Linked DNA regions of Homo sapiens. The protein of the gene in region 1 purifies or fractionates together with the protein of each later gene. This does not show direct contact. Each region holds a gene or a part of one and is shown in the gene's direction. Other genes may lie near its edges.

Region 1 (3,500 bases):
TACTAAAAAATACAAAAAAATTAGCTGGGCATGGTAGCGGGCACCTGTAGTCCCAGCTACTCGGGAGGCTGAGGCAGGAGAATGGCATGAACCCGGGAGGCGGAGCTTGCAGTGAGCCGAGATCACGCCACTGCCCTCCAGCCTGGGTGACAGAGCGAGACTCCGTCTCAAAAAAAAAAAGAAGTATAGGAGAAAGCCAGGTGTGGTGGCTCACACCTGTAATCCCAGCACTTTAGGAGGCCAAGGTGGGAGGGTCACTTGAGGCTAGAAGTTTGAGGGGGCAACACAGTGAGACCCTATCTCTACAAAAGAAAAATAAGGCCAGGCATAGTGGCTCACACTTATAATCCCAGCACTTTGGGAGGCTGAGGCAGAAGGACCACTTGAGCCCAGGAGTTTCAGACCAGCCTGGGCAACAAGGAGAAACCCTGTCTCTACGAAAAACACAAAAAATGAGCTGGACATCGTGGCCCATGCTTCTAGTCCCAGCTACCTGGGAGGCTGAATGGAAAGGATAGCTTGAGCTTGGGAGGTGGAGTTTGCAGTGAGCTGAGATCACACCACTGCCCTCCAGCCTGGACGTTAGAGCGAGACTCTGTCTCAATAAATAAGTAAATAAATAAGCTGGGTGTGGTGACATGTGCCTGTAGTCCCAGCTACTCGGGATTGCTCCAGTCCAGGAGTTCGAAGCTGCAATGAGCCATGAATGGGCCACTGCACTCCAGCCTGGGCAACAGAGTGAGACCCTGTCTCAAAAAGAAAAGTACAGGAGAAAATACTCTCCTCACCAACTACTTATCAAAACCATAATCTGATAATACTCATAAATGCCTGCAAGGAACTACAAATACTTTCTTTAGATGGCTTTTATTTATTTATTTTTTAGACAGGGTTTCAGTCTGTGGCCCAAGCTGGAGTGCAGTGGTGTGATTTCAGCTCATTGCAACCTCTGCCCCCCAGGCTCAAGGGATCCTCCTGCCTCAGCCCCCTGAGTAGCTAGGACCATAGAGACACATCACTATGCCTGGCTAATTTTCATATTTTTTGTAGAGATTAAGTTTTGCCATGTCCCCCAGGCTGGTCTCGAACTCCTGGACTCAAGCAATCTGCTTGCCTCAGCCTCCCAAAGTGCTGGGATTAACAGGCATGAGCCACCACACGCAACCAGATGTTTTTTTTTAAGGCCCAAATGGATTATACTATCAACATGTTGTCTGGTTTGCTTTAACACTTGTTATCCAGGGCTTTGGTCTTTTGGTGAGATAGAGTACAAAGTCAACACTCTATCCACAAGTTGTGCATCTGCGGATTCAACCTAGAATCAAAAATACTTGGGAACAAAAACCAACTTTAAAAATTCAAATAAAAAAATACAGTATAGGCCGGGCGTGGTAGCTCACGCCTGTAATCCCAGCATTTTGGGAGGCCAAGGTGGGTGGATCACCTGAGGTCGGGAGTTCGAGACCAGCCTGACCAACATGGAGAAACCCTGTCTCTACTAAAAATACAAAATTAGCCAGGCGTGGTGGCGCATGCCTGTAATCCCAGCTACTCGGGAGTCTGAGGCAGGAGAATCACTTGAACCCAGGAGGCGGAGGTTGCGGTGAGCCGACATTGCGCCGTTGCATTCCAGCCTGGGCAACAAGAGTGAAACTGTGTCTAAAAAAAAAAAAAATTATAACACCTATTTACCTAGCATTTAGCATTTATATTGTATTAGGAATTATAAGTATTTAGAGTTGATTAAAATATACAGGAAGATGTACTTAGGTTTATGCAAATACTATGCCATTTTATATAAGGGACTGGAGCATCCCAGGATTTTGGTATCTGAAGGGGTCCTGGAACCAATCTCCTGTGGATACCACGGGATGACTATACAGAAAGAAGAGCATGGGTTAGGCCCTGTGCAAGGTGCTTTAGATATAGTATCTCTTGAAAATATCAGAACTGAGATTCAAACCCAGGTCTGCGTAGCCCCACAGCCTAAACTGTTTCCTCTGTACTCTACTGCTGGATTTGATGAGTACAGTTTTGGACATGGCGAATCTCAGATGCCTATACATACTAGTGGAGAGGTCCAGAGGGCGTTGAATATACAGAAGTGGGGTGAGAAGAATCAAGGCCTAAGGCGATAACCGAAGACATGAACTCAACTAGGGAATGAGAAGATTGAGGAGAAAACCCTGAAGGGACCTTTCCTTTGCCTCCCACACCAGCATATGTGGGAGCCAGAGGAGAGGCCCATGCAGCTAGGAAACACTCATGTAGATATTGTTTCCTTTTTTTCCTGTGTCTTCTACTTCCCTGCAGCCAGGCAGCAACTGTAGAGCCCTTTGAGAAAGAAAGAATTCAACAGAGGGAAGGAACCTAGGCATTGAATTGGAAATAATAAAACCTGATTCCTGATAATACCCTCCTCCCCACTCAACCCACACATCTCTCTTTTACACTTGAATATAACATGAAGGTTTCCGCCGGGCGCGGCGGCTCGCGCCTGTAATCCCAGCACATTGGGCCGAGGTGGGTGGATTGCTTGAGGTCAGGAGTTTGAGACAAGCCTACCCAACATGGTGAAACCCCGTCTCTACTAAAAATACAAAAAATTAGCCAGGTGTGGTGGTGGGCGCCTGTAATCCCAGCTACTCTGGAGTCTGAGGCAAGAGAATCACTTGAACCTGGGAAGTGGAGGTTGCAGTGAGCCAAGATCGTGCCACTGTACTCCAGCCTGGGTGACGGAGCAAGACTCCGTCTTAAAAGAAAAAAAGGATAGCCGGGCGCAGTGGCTCACGCCTGTAATCCCAGCACTTTGGGAGGCCGAGGTGGGTGGATCACAAGGTCAGGAGTTCGAGACCAGCCTGGCCAATACAGTGAAACCCCGTCTGTACTAAAAATACAAAAATTAGCCGAGCGTGGTGGCGGGCGCCTGTAGTCCCAGCTACTCGGGAGGCTGAGGCAGGAGAATCGCTTGAACCTGGGAGGTGGAGGTTGTGGTGAGCCAAGATTGCGTCATTGCCCTCCAGCCTGGGCAAGAAGAGTGAAACTCCATCTCAAACAAAATAAATAAATAAAGTAAAAGATAGGCTGGGCACAGTGACTCATGCCTGTAATCCCAGCACTTTGAAAAGCTGAGACTGGTGGATCACCTGAGGTCAGGAGTTCAAGACCAGCCTGGCCAACATGGTGAAACCCTGTCTCTACTAATAATACAAAAATTAGCTGGGCGTGGTGGCACATGCCTGTAATCCCAGCTACTGGGGAGGCTGAGGCAGGAGAATCGCTTGAACCCAGGAGGTGGAGGTTGCAGTGAGCCAAGATCGCGCCATTGCACCCCAGCCTGGGTGACAAGAATGAAACTCTATCTCAAAAAAATAAAAATAAAAAAGATAACATGAGGGTTTCTGAATGCTGCCAAAGGTCCAGATAGGCAGTTCCTGACAAGCTCAGAGTCTGGAATCTGTTCACGCACAGCTAGGCTGGAAAGCAGTTGTATCAAGCAG
Region 2 (4,114 bases), on another chromosome or scaffold:
AGAAAATACATATATGCCCTGTCCTGTTAAGGTGCGAATTTAATTTCTACATTATACAATTATCAACAATAAGGAGTATTGTCAATTACTCCTTATTATACATTATACAATTATCAACAATAAGGAGTATTTTAATTCTCAAGAGCAGAATTAAAAATTGGATGTTCAAAGCCACAAGCCAACATCTCCAACTTGCTCTTTTATGATGTTTCAGTCACTAAATGCAGTGGCTGAGTGTTATCTGGCTTTTCTGTTCAAATTCTCTATGAGGCTCTAGAAATAACTTAGCCAGTATAATGTAACACTGGCAACTTAATTTCTACCTTCAGAGCAAGACTGGAACTGAAACTGCAAAACAGCTTGTGAAATATCAGCCAAATTACTTCCCCGAACTCCTGTTCCATATATGCTGTGCATTGTTAAGTATTTTAAGACCTCTTATATTCGATAACCCCCCTTACTATCCTGTAAAACGCTTTATAAACACTTTCCTGGGTGTCAGATGCAAAATCTTACCCTCTTCAAGCTGCAGATAAGGACACCGAGATGTTGCCAAATATGCTGTTTTGTCCCAGAGCACATACTGAGGAAGTGGTAGAACCAGAACCAGTCTGTGACCCCTTTGTTTTACTTTTGCGGAACTCCTGGTCTCATTAAAGGTGCAATACCAGCGATGAGACACTGCGTGTGCCCAACAGGGACAAAGGTCATTGAGCAGTCCTAGGAATTCAGACTTTCAGAAATGTCTCAGAAGAACTAAGTAGAAGGCAGGTTGTGCAGGTGTGCAGTGCAGCCTCAAACTGGTACCACCGGGATCGGTTTGCAAAACAGGAAGGTGCAGTAGGGTGTGCCGGGACTTAGTTAACCTGGCACTCCCCCACCTCCTTCCCCGGCGCCCCGCTGCCAGGTTACTTCTGGCCCGGTGCCCTTAACGTACCTTTTCCGTGTTTAACTTGGAGGGCTACGTTCCCATCGCCCTTCTTCCTCTACCCGTCACCCTACAGGCCTACCTGACAAATGTGGGGACGGTTTAGCCAAGGCCCGTTGGCCCACGAATGCCCAGGCGTGTGCCTTATTTCTGAGAGTGGGAGGGAGACAGCCCAGGCCCTGCAAGGACGCGCCCGGCTAGGGGGGCGCGGTGGCGCGGTCGGGAGGGTGTTGTGTTCTCAGCAGGCCTCAGGGCGGCACTCTGGTTCTGCGGCCGGAGTGCTCGGGCGGGCCGCTGGGCGCCGACCCATGCTGGCTGGGAACGTGTCTCCCGGTGACGCAGCCCCGGGTGGGGAACGTGGTGCGGCGGCGGCGGCGGCGGCGACTGTACGCGCCTCCGCCGCCCCCGAGAGGACGCGCCGTGCAGCGGCTGAGTGGCGGCGGCGGCGACGGCAAACCCGGAGCTGCCGGCCGGCGCGCGGGAGGAGGACGCGGGTGCGGTCTAGGAAGTAGGTCCCGGGCTCCGCGCTCAACAAAGACGGGGCCGCCCCCATTAGGTACGGAGCCGGCCCTGGGCCCCGGCTGGCGGGGAGGCCTCGTCGGGCAGTTCGCGGGCGGCCGGGGAGGGGGAAGGGCCGCAGACCGAACGGGGATACGGGGCGCCGGGGGCCCTTCCAGGCCCCTTTCTCTTCCACGGCCCCTGGCGGGACGGAAGGGAAGGGGCCGGGCCGCGAGGGCGCGGGCCGCTGGGGGTCGTAGCCTGCGACGCCAACCAGCCTTTGCTCGTCCCTCGTGCAGACGGAGCTGCGGGCGGAGGCTCCATGTTGGGAAGCGGCGCCGTTCGTGCTTGTTAGCGGGAATCCGGGAGCCGCGGGGTGAGCTGGCGGGGGCCGGGCCCTAAGTGAAGATGGAGGCCCCGCTGCGGCCTGCCGCGGACATCCTGAGGCGGAACCCGCAGCAGGACTACGAACTCGTCCAGAGGGTCGGCAGCGGCACCTACGGGGACGTCTATAAGGTAAGTGAGGCTGGCCGTGCTTTTTTCCTGCGGTCGACTGGGTCCCGGGAATGGGGCCACTTTCCTGCGAAGTATTGGGGCGAGAGGAGGATGCTTTTATTGTTGCCTCTTGGGGAGAAAGCGGCCGGGGTCCCTTTTACTCGGTTCTGAGCACCCTCGACTCATGGCTTGTTCTAATCGCTACCAACAGGCAGAACTAACCACACAGTTGCAAACCGCTGTTGCACTTTTTTTGTGGTTTAAAGGCTTTTTAATAGGGCTTATTTATGGTATTGAAGGGAATTTGAATCTGCTTGTGGAATTACACCGAAGGATGCTCTAGTGTTAGCATGGAAAAATGCTTCATGGAAGATAGACAGGAAAGAATATTGACATTCAGACATTTGCATTTTTTTAAAAAAATTTGTTTCAATGGATGAGTTTGACTAAAAAAGCCATATGAAACCCTGTCTCTGAGCTTTAACTGTAAGCAAACTAATATTGGTGACATTTATGCAAGCATTATCCCATATAAAAAGATGCTTTTCCTGGTGGAAGTTTGATCGTTTGTTTTTGGTTGGCGATAAAAATGTGATATTAACTTGCTGGGTTTTGTTTTACTTTAGCGGTTCCTTTCAGGGATTTATAACATCCTATAACCAAGAGTGGATATGAGCCGCTGTCTTTGTATTGTGCTGTTTTGTATTACTTAAGACAAACGATGAGAGTAAGTTACACCTAATTTAGGATTTTAAAAAACATTGTAGAGAAGCAAACCCAATTCCCCAAATCCGCTGAGTTCTTGAATGGTTCAGAGGAAAGAGATTGAGATTGCCTTATGCTTTTTGTTGTGTGTTCCAAAAAGGGAGCATTAGTGCAGCCTATGAATATTAAGGGCAAATTCCTTTGCTTTTTGCAACGGCGTTGTTTATTGGATTTGATCATGATATATATCGCATTGTGCCAAACAACACTTCTGCATATCGCTGAAGTGGTTTTGTGTCATTTGGGTAATTAACCAGTAGATTCCTCTGGGGTTAGGTTGTTGTTTTGCACAGGTGGTTCCCCTCTTTCTACTTACTTTTAATTTCCTCCTAATTAATATTAGCATTTCAAGGTAGTGGTATTATCAAACAGCCCTAGCACTGTTTGATTCTACTGAGATAAACTGTAATGGATAGGCTTTTTATTGCTTAAACAAGCATTTGAGTCTTCTGTACCAGGCACTGGTAGAGGTACTGAGGTGATGAATTGTGAGCAAGGTTCTGGCTCTTACCTTGTGAATACCTTTGAACTCAAAGTGTATGTTTGTAACAATCCTCTTCTTCTTTATGTAAAATTAGAGGTAGTTAACTTAGTTGTTTATCCAGGGATTAGCCATTTTGTGGAATGCTCTTCAGAAAATTGAAATTCCTATTTCCTTTCTCAGTCTCATTTTTTAGTCATCTTTGTCTTATGATTCACTGTGTGTTAGACGAGTTCAATTTAGTTCATGTTAATTTACAATAGTATAAATTCTACTTGTATATATTCTCTTCTCCCTACTACAATAAAGTTTTAGGAGTGTTTTTCCCATAAAGATCTTAAGACCTCCACCCTTTTTCTTCATAGATGTAGTAACTAAAGCAACTCTGGAGCAGGATTTTATTCATGCCTGAGAAAAAGCAAAGATTATATTTAAGGGGCAGCTAATGCCTGCCTTTTACCCTGGTGCCTTCCTGCCCTAGTCTCTCTTCTGCAGTTCCCAAACAGAATCAAAAACCGAATATTCATCATACTCTACCTTCACCCCTTAACACATGGTCCCCTACCCTCACAATGTTGCTTCCTCTACCCTCACAATGTTGCTTCCTCACACTTACATGTATATTCATTGCACACTAGGCCAGCCTCTGATTCTAAACATCCTTAAGGCGTTCTTAGCTCCTTGTCTTTTGTTTTCCTTTGTTCTAATTACTTGGAATCACCTTCCACCCCTCCATTTCCACCTGTTGCTGTAATACCTGTCCATGAAAGCCTTACCCAAATGCTCCTGGGCAAGACAGCCCTTCCCTCTTATTTCTCAGCCTCATCTACCACTCTCCTTAGTCATTCTGCTCTAGTCACACTGGCCTGCTTGCTGCTCCTTAAACATGATAAGCATCTCCCCATCTTTGGGTCCTTGTTCTTGCTATTTCCTCTCTTCGTAATGTC
Region 3 (3,500 bases), on another chromosome or scaffold:
TGTTGTAACTTTCCTCTTATAATCTTTTTTTTTTTCCCTAATTGAATGGTAGCTAATAAACAATCTGTATTGTTTGGCCTGTATTTCTTTTTCATCAGTCTGTCTTCCCTAATATGACAGGGCAGTTAGGAATTTTTTCTTTTTCTTTTTTCTTTTTGTAGACATAGGATCTTGCTCTGTTGCCCAGGATGCTCTTGAACTCCTGGCCTCACTCGATGCTCCTGCCTCGGCCACCCAAAGTGTTGGGATTACAGGCATGAGCCACCATGCTTGGCCAGATTTTTTCTTTGATTGCTTTTCTAGAATCTGTTTTCACTTTTGTGTTTGTTTCTATTTTCCTTCTATATGTGCAGGATATATTCAGAAAAAGTAGAAATTTTATGGCCTGGCACAGTGGCTCATGCCTGTAATCTCAATACTTTAGGAGGCCAAGGTGGACAGATCACTTGAGGTCAGGAGTTCAAGACCAGCCTGGCCAACATGGCAAAACCCCATCTCTACTAAAAATACAAAAATTAGCTGAGTGTGGTGGTGTGTGCCAGTAATTCCCGCTATTCAGGAGTCTGAGCTACAAGAATCACTTGAACCTGGGAGGCAGAAGTTACGTTGAGCCAAGATCGCGCCACTGTACTTCGACCTGGGCAACAACACGAGACTCAGTCTCAAAAAAAAAAAAAAGAAAGAAAGAAATTGGCAAGGTGCGGTGGCTCATGCCTGTAATCCCGGCACTTTGGGAGGCTGAGGCAGGCAGATCACGAGGTCAGGAGTTCAAGACCAGCCTGGCCAACATGGTGAAACCCTGTCTCTACTAAAAATAGAAAAAATAGCTGGGTGTGGTGGCGGGCGCCTGTAACCCCAGCTACTCGGGAGGCTGAGGCAGGAGAATGGCGTGAACCTGGGAAGCAGAGGTTGCAGTAAGCCGAGATTGCGCCATTGTACTCCAGCCTGGGTGACAGGGTGAGACTCCATCTCAAAAAAAAAAAAAAAAAAAGACATTTTGTAAGAACTTTTGATCCTTAAAAGTACATAGGCTGATGCAGTGGCTCATGCCTATAATTCCAGCATTTTGGGAGGCCAAGGTGAGCAGATCTCTTAAGCCCAGGAGTTTGAGAGCCACCTGGGCAACAAGCCAAAACCCCATTTTTACAGAAAATACAAAAATTAGCCAATCATGGTGGCATCCACCTGTAGTCCCAGCTACTGGGGAGTTTGAGGTGGGAGGATTACTTGAGCCTGGAGATCAAGGCTGAGTGAGCCAAGATCATGCTGCATACCACTGCACTCCAGTCTGGGCGACAGGGTAGGTAAGGCTATCAGAGTGAGACTCTGTCTCAAAAAAAAAAAAAAAAAAAAAAACTGTTGAGGCTAGGTGTGATGGCTCATTGTAATCCCAGCACTTTGGGGGACCCAAGGCAGGAAGATCACATGAGTCCAGGAGTTCGAGACCAGCCTGGGCAATATAGCAAGACCTGGTCTCTACATATAAAAGAAAAAAAGAGAGAGGGAAATACATTGGTCTTACATTAATAACTTTGAGACACCTATGCTTTTTTACATTGTTACTGAGGTATAACTATCTACAGTAAAGTATGCTAATCTTGAGTGTACAGCTTGATGAATGTTAACAATAGTTACACCTATGTAACTACTATCCAGATCAAAATGTAAAATATTTCCAACATCCCAGAAGGCTCCTTTGCACACCTTCCCAGTCAGCCTTGATCCATTGCCTGTTTCTGAGATGCATAAGGTGAAGTAATATTGTATGTAGTGTTTTGTGTCTGGCTGCTTTGTTCAACATATTGTCTGTTACCTTCACTGAAGTTGTTACATGTGATTGCTTACTTTTTAAAAAGTTTAAATGTTTGCATTTCAGTTGGTTTTTGGAATCTTCTCTCAAAAAAGAAGGTAATCCTCACCCTCACACAAGTGCAGGCTGTTTATCTTCAACAGTTGAAAATCACTGTAGAGGAAGTATTTATATATCTTAGTCTACGTTGTATCTTGTGATTATGTCTAATGTCTAATTATATTCATTAATAAGACCATTTCCCCCTTCTTTTTTATTATACAAGTTGAGATTGGGAGTGTGTTGAGAGCCACATACCACTTTTGATACGTGGTAGCCAAGTTTTTACCTAATGTTAAATAATCTTATTCCTTGTCTTTATTAGTTATGCAGAAGGGGTTAAAAGATAACTTTGCTGATGTCCAGGTCTCTGTAGTTGATTGCCCTGATTTGACTAAGGAACCCTTTACCTTTCCTGTAAAAGGTAAGCAATTTTTGCAATTAGCTTTTGTTTTTTAGTCATAATCTTTTTCTGAAACTAGAATTATTTTTAAGGACATCTTAAATTATCTACAAATAAAGGATATTGTCACAACATTTAGGCTAAATTGTGCCAAATTTCTGTGCTCACTCTTCTGATATTGGTTAAATTTCATTTCATACTCTTGTGGAAAAGGATTGTGTTTTATTCACTTATGTAACCTTCACAGATTGTAGAATAGATATCCAATAGGTTAGAATTCTTTGTATCACACGAGAGTTTTGCTTTTAATTGCTCAGACTGTTATGGAAACTGATTTTAATTTTTATGATTTTATTTATTCAAGACCAGAAGGGATCCTAAAAGCCTTGTATTTGAATGATCTGTTAAAACTAATCCTTCAACAAATTTGCCAAGTGAGCATCCACTGTTTGAAGTGAGAAGGAAGGGAAATTAGTATTAGAAGAATAAAATAATTTGTCAGTATGATAGATAGTTAGTTGATGTTTCAGTTTTTACAATAACACCACAAGGTAAGTAGTAGCCCTTGTTTATAGATGAGAAAACTGAAAACGAGAGAGGCTAGATAAGCTCAGTGTAAATCATAACCAGGATTCAAATGCAAGTCTGTTTCCAAAGTCTAACCCCCTCCTGTTATACCCTATTATGATGAGGAATTTGAGGATAAACACTCAAAGTGTTCTTTTTATTATGTAATTAACATCTTTGCTAAAAAGGAGTTTGCCATAGAAATTCTGGACTCTAGTTCTGTCTTAGAACAAACCTGACTTTGAGATAACATTAGCATGAGGGGATTTGAATTGAATGTTTTTTGGGGGCCTTTACAGCTTAAACAATCTTTGATTTTAAGTAGAGCTGTAAATTCTAGAAGGCTTGTGTACCATGTGGCAATTTCTTTTAGCTTCTTCAAAGGATTTAGCATAGTACTTTTTTATAGTTTTTTTTTTTTTTTTTTTTTTTTGAGACAGAGTCTCACTCTGTCACCAGGCTGGAGTTCAGTGGCGCAATCTCAGCTCACTGCAACCTCTGCCTCCCAGGTTCAAGCGATTCTCCAGCCTCAGCCTCCTGAGTAGCTGAGACTACAGGCATGTGCCACCACGCCTGGCTAATTTTTTGTATTTTTAGTAGAGACAGGGTTTCACCGTGTTAGCCAGGATGGTCTCGATCTCCTGACCTCGTGATCCGCCCACCTCGGCCTTCCAAAGTGCT
Region 4 (3,500 bases), on another chromosome or scaffold:
TTACCAAATTCCACTTGTAATTTATATATGTGTGTGTATATATAATCTACAGTTAAAAATAAGTTTTTTCCTTTGTAATGACAACGTGGTTTTCTATTATCAGTGTAAACTATCGCAGACAGCTAGCTAATTGCTATAAGAATAGTTCAACATCAACTAAACTAAAATCAAAATTTTTTGCCAGATTCTTTAATATTCAACTAAAAATACTAATGCTGTAAATTATCTGTATATAACTTATTATTAACTTAATAGAACACTGATCAAAATTACATGAATTTGATCTTCAATAGAGCTGTCCTGAGGTTAATTTATACTTGAAGTGGCCAAGTATGGTTGAGATAGTTGATTATCATTGGGGGAAATTTGGTTTTAAAGTCAGACGTAAAATTGTATCCTGTTTTAGCCACTTAGTATCTGTATGACCTGGGAAAGTTTATTGAAGTTCAGTATAGGTACATCATTTGTAAAAGAGGATTAATATTAAACATTCCAAAATTTGTGAGAATTAATCATGTTGTAACATGTATAAAATGCCTTACACAGTGCTTGGTATATAGTTGGTACTCCATAAGTGCTACTTCAGTCTTCTCTTTCTCTCTCAACTGTAAATGCGGAAATAATTGTCCCTTAGAATTACTGAATTCCTTGGGATTTTTACCGAATTCCCTCTAGGGACATCCAGGAAGACTGAAATCTTCTCTTTAAGATAGTTTTTACTTCTACCTAGCAGAGTCAATAACATTTACTTTCTTGATAGAATGGTTGTTTATTGGAGCAAGAAACCAAGTTAGACTATTGCTTTTCAAATTAGAAGGTTATCTGTTTTAAATAAAATTTACTAATATTACTTCAGTAATCCTAGAGAACATTTGCATACTCCTGCTTTGTACGTATGACTCAATTTTGAGATAATTAACCATTTGTACCTTCCAATATTCAGGCTAGACAGTAGATATTTGAGAGTGTCTGAGGGGTGCATAGACCATCTAATCTTTAGATTTTCTAAGCTCCACACCAAAATCTGGTAGAATTACTGGAGTACCACATACTTCAACTGCTTATATCAAAAAATGTTTTCACTCATTTACTATAATGCAAAAAAAGGCTCTTAGTTGTTTGAGGTTCATTATTAAAAGTGGCTGCTTGAAAATATCTTCATTTGTAGACTTTCTTTCCCCCTTGTTAATTTATTGACCTTACATAAGTATGCATGTGACAAATCTCTTGTAGACCCAAAGGTAGGAAATAGATTTTACTATGGGGAATAACACTGATAAGAACACTTGATTTTATTCCTTTGCCTGCCTTCCAGAAAGCATTCATAGCATAAAATAATGTTTAAGCCTGTAATTCTTATCCAAGATGTCTGGTAGAACTTTCCTCTTTCCTTATAACTTTAAATCATTTCGTACTTCTTTTCAGCTAATTTTTTTTGGGAGGGGGTTATGTTTCTTCAGTATAAACCACCTCAGTTCTCCTTTTGAAATAGATGTTGCATAAGTTATAATTATATATGTTTATCACTGACACCACTAAAAAGAATTTGACTTGGTTTTTTAACCAGTTTGTCTTAAGCTTCCTGTAGTTGTTTCCCCGCTCCTCCCCGCTCCCAAATATATTTTAAGAGAGTTCCTGTGCCTCTTACATTAACATCTTCACTGTAGTCATGGATGATCCAATGCCTGACATTTTATATGTACCATCTAAAGGACATAATTGTGCAGAGAGAGAGAAGGATTATTGCATTTTCTTTGAACTTTTCCTTATTTGGGATGCCCTATTATTGGATATGTATTCATGAAAGAATCTCATTTGTTGATCTAGGTTTATCATCATTGGATTTTTAGATGAGGATTGGCATCTGGGTCTTACAACTACCCTTCTTTTGTTCCAGGGTTTGGTTAATAAAAACTCTAAGAACTGTGCCAAATGGGATCAAAATATCAGCTTTATTAAAGGTAAAGTTGAAATAGAGATTGCAGTTTGGGCTTGAAGCCAGAATGGGGTTTTTCACTCCTGCCCTTTGAATTGGAAACAGTAGAATGAGAAGAGCTCAAAAATGTTAATCTGCTATTGCTCATTCCAGGGAATTAGAGCAGAGGTCCCTTTCCTCTGAGGGAAGAGGGAAAGAAAAAGGAGGAAATACATACTCAAATGTTCTAATTCCTCCTCTGATGGCAAACGTGTTCAGAGAAAGGGTAAAAGGTGTATCATGCAATTCCTGACTTAACCCCAGCAATAAGATATACAAACATGGATTTTTAAAAATAAAATCTAGGGCTGGGATCCGGTGGCTCACACCTATAATCCCAGCACTTTGGGAGGCTGAGGTGCGCAGATCACCTGAGGTTGGGAGTTCGACACCAGCCTGACCAACATGGAGAAACCCCGTCTCTACTAAAAAAAAATACAAAATTAGCTGGGCGTGGTGGTGCATGCCTGTAATCCCAGCTACTCGGGAGGCTGAGGCAGGAGAATCACTTGAACCTGGGAGGCCGAGGTTGTGGTGAGCTGATATCGTGCCATTGCACTCCAGCCTGGGCAACAAGAGTGAAACTCCGTCTCAAAATGAATAAATAAATAATTTTAAAAATCTAGTTTTACAATAAAATCTAAATATATAAACTTTTAAAATATCTTAACGCAGTAGTGTCTTGGGTTTTTTGTTGTTGTTGAGACAGAGTCTCGCTCTGTTGCCCAGGCTGGAGTACAGTGGCTTGATCTTGGCTTACTGCAACCTCCACCTCCCAGGTTCAAGCGATCCTCCTGCCTCAGCCTCCTGAGTAGCTGTGACTACAGGCACTTGCCGCCATGCCCGGCTAATTTTTGTATCTTTAGTGGAGATGGGGTTTTGCCACATTGGCCAGGCTGGTCTCGAACTCCTGACCTCTGGTGATCCACCTGCCTTGGCCTCCCAAAGTGCTAGGATTACAGGTGTGAGCCACTGCACCCGGCCTAATAGTGTTTTTAAAAAGTAAAAATAAAAGAAGACAGTGGAGAAAATGTTAACCTTCTGATTTGGTTGCATGCTTGGATTCTTTGCTTTGGTAGAAAAAGGAAATAACTAATGGGATCAAAAGTAAATTAACTGGAATGATTCTAGGGTAACTCACAAACTGAAGGAAAAGTTAAAACAACCAAGTCTTTGGAAAAACAGAGAACCTCAGATCTCAGAAGTAGAAACTCATCAATCTTCTCCCTGCAGTGCTGTCATCCAGTGCTTCAGTTCACCATGCTGTCTTCGTTAACTGTATCCCTGGTCAAGATTCAGATCCAGACAGATATTTTGATTGGCTCAGCCTGAGACAAGTGCTTATCTCTAGACCACAGTCACTTTACCTAAGAGGGATATAGGAAATTAAAATTGTTCCAGCCCCTCTGGTGAGGGGAGCAAGGCAGAAGAGAACAAGGTGGGAGGTGGAATAAACTATACCGAGCTGACCAAAGAATAGCAACCATACATTCATTTATCCAGCCATTATTTAATAAGTGCGTCC

What was found. Proteins that work in one complex are often made in the same cells at the same time.
Region 2: the proteins of AKR1A1 (region 1) and MAP4K5 purify together in Homo sapiens (affinity purification with mass spectrometry; one large-scale study listed by BioGRID and IntAct). This does not show direct contact.
Region 3: the proteins of AKR1A1 (region 1) and C11orf54 fractionate together in Homo sapiens (co-fractionation; one large-scale study listed by BioGRID). This does not show direct contact.
Region 4: the proteins of AKR1A1 (region 1) and GNPDA2 fractionate together in Homo sapiens (co-fractionation; one large-scale study listed by BioGRID). This does not show direct contact.

What each region holds. Positions count from the first base shown.
Region 1 is NC_000001.11:45,553,826-45,557,325, forward strand, and holds part of AKR1A1 (aldo-keto reductase family 1 member A1), read left to right. Parts: intron 1-3,500. UniProt on the Homo sapiens protein: Catalyzes the NADPH-dependent reduction of a wide variety of carbonyl-containing compounds to their corresponding alcohols.
Region 2 is NC_000014.9:50,529,770-50,533,883, reverse strand, and holds the start of MAP4K5 (mitogen-activated protein kinase kinase kinase kinase 5), read left to right. Parts: upstream 1-1,314; 5' UTR 1,315-1,436; exon of another isoform or gene 1,437-1,484; intron 1,485-1,725; 5' UTR 1,726-1,834; coding exon 1,835-1,942; intron 1,943-4,114. UniProt on the Homo sapiens protein: May play a role in the response to environmental stress. Appears to act upstream of the JUN N-terminal pathway.
Region 3 is NC_000011.10:93,748,172-93,751,671, forward strand, and holds part of C11orf54 (ester hydrolase C11orf54), read left to right. Parts: intron 1-2,174; coding exon 2,175-2,273; intron 2,274-3,500. UniProt on the Homo sapiens protein: Exhibits ester hydrolase activity on the substrate p-nitrophenyl acetate, in vitro. Regulates DNA damage and repair by regulating HIF1A degradation via chaperone-mediated autophagy (CMA).
Region 4 is NC_000004.12:44,713,057-44,716,556, reverse strand, and holds part of GNPDA2 (glucosamine-6-phosphate deaminase 2), read left to right. Parts: intron 1-1,897; exon of another isoform or gene 1,898-1,961; intron 1,962-3,500. UniProt on the Homo sapiens protein: Catalyzes the reversible conversion of alpha-D-glucosamine 6-phosphate (GlcN-6P) into beta-D-fructose 6-phosphate (Fru-6P) and ammonium ion, a regulatory reaction step in de novo uridine diphosphate-N-acetyl-alpha-D-glucosamine (UDP-GlcNAc) biosynthesis via hexosamine pathway.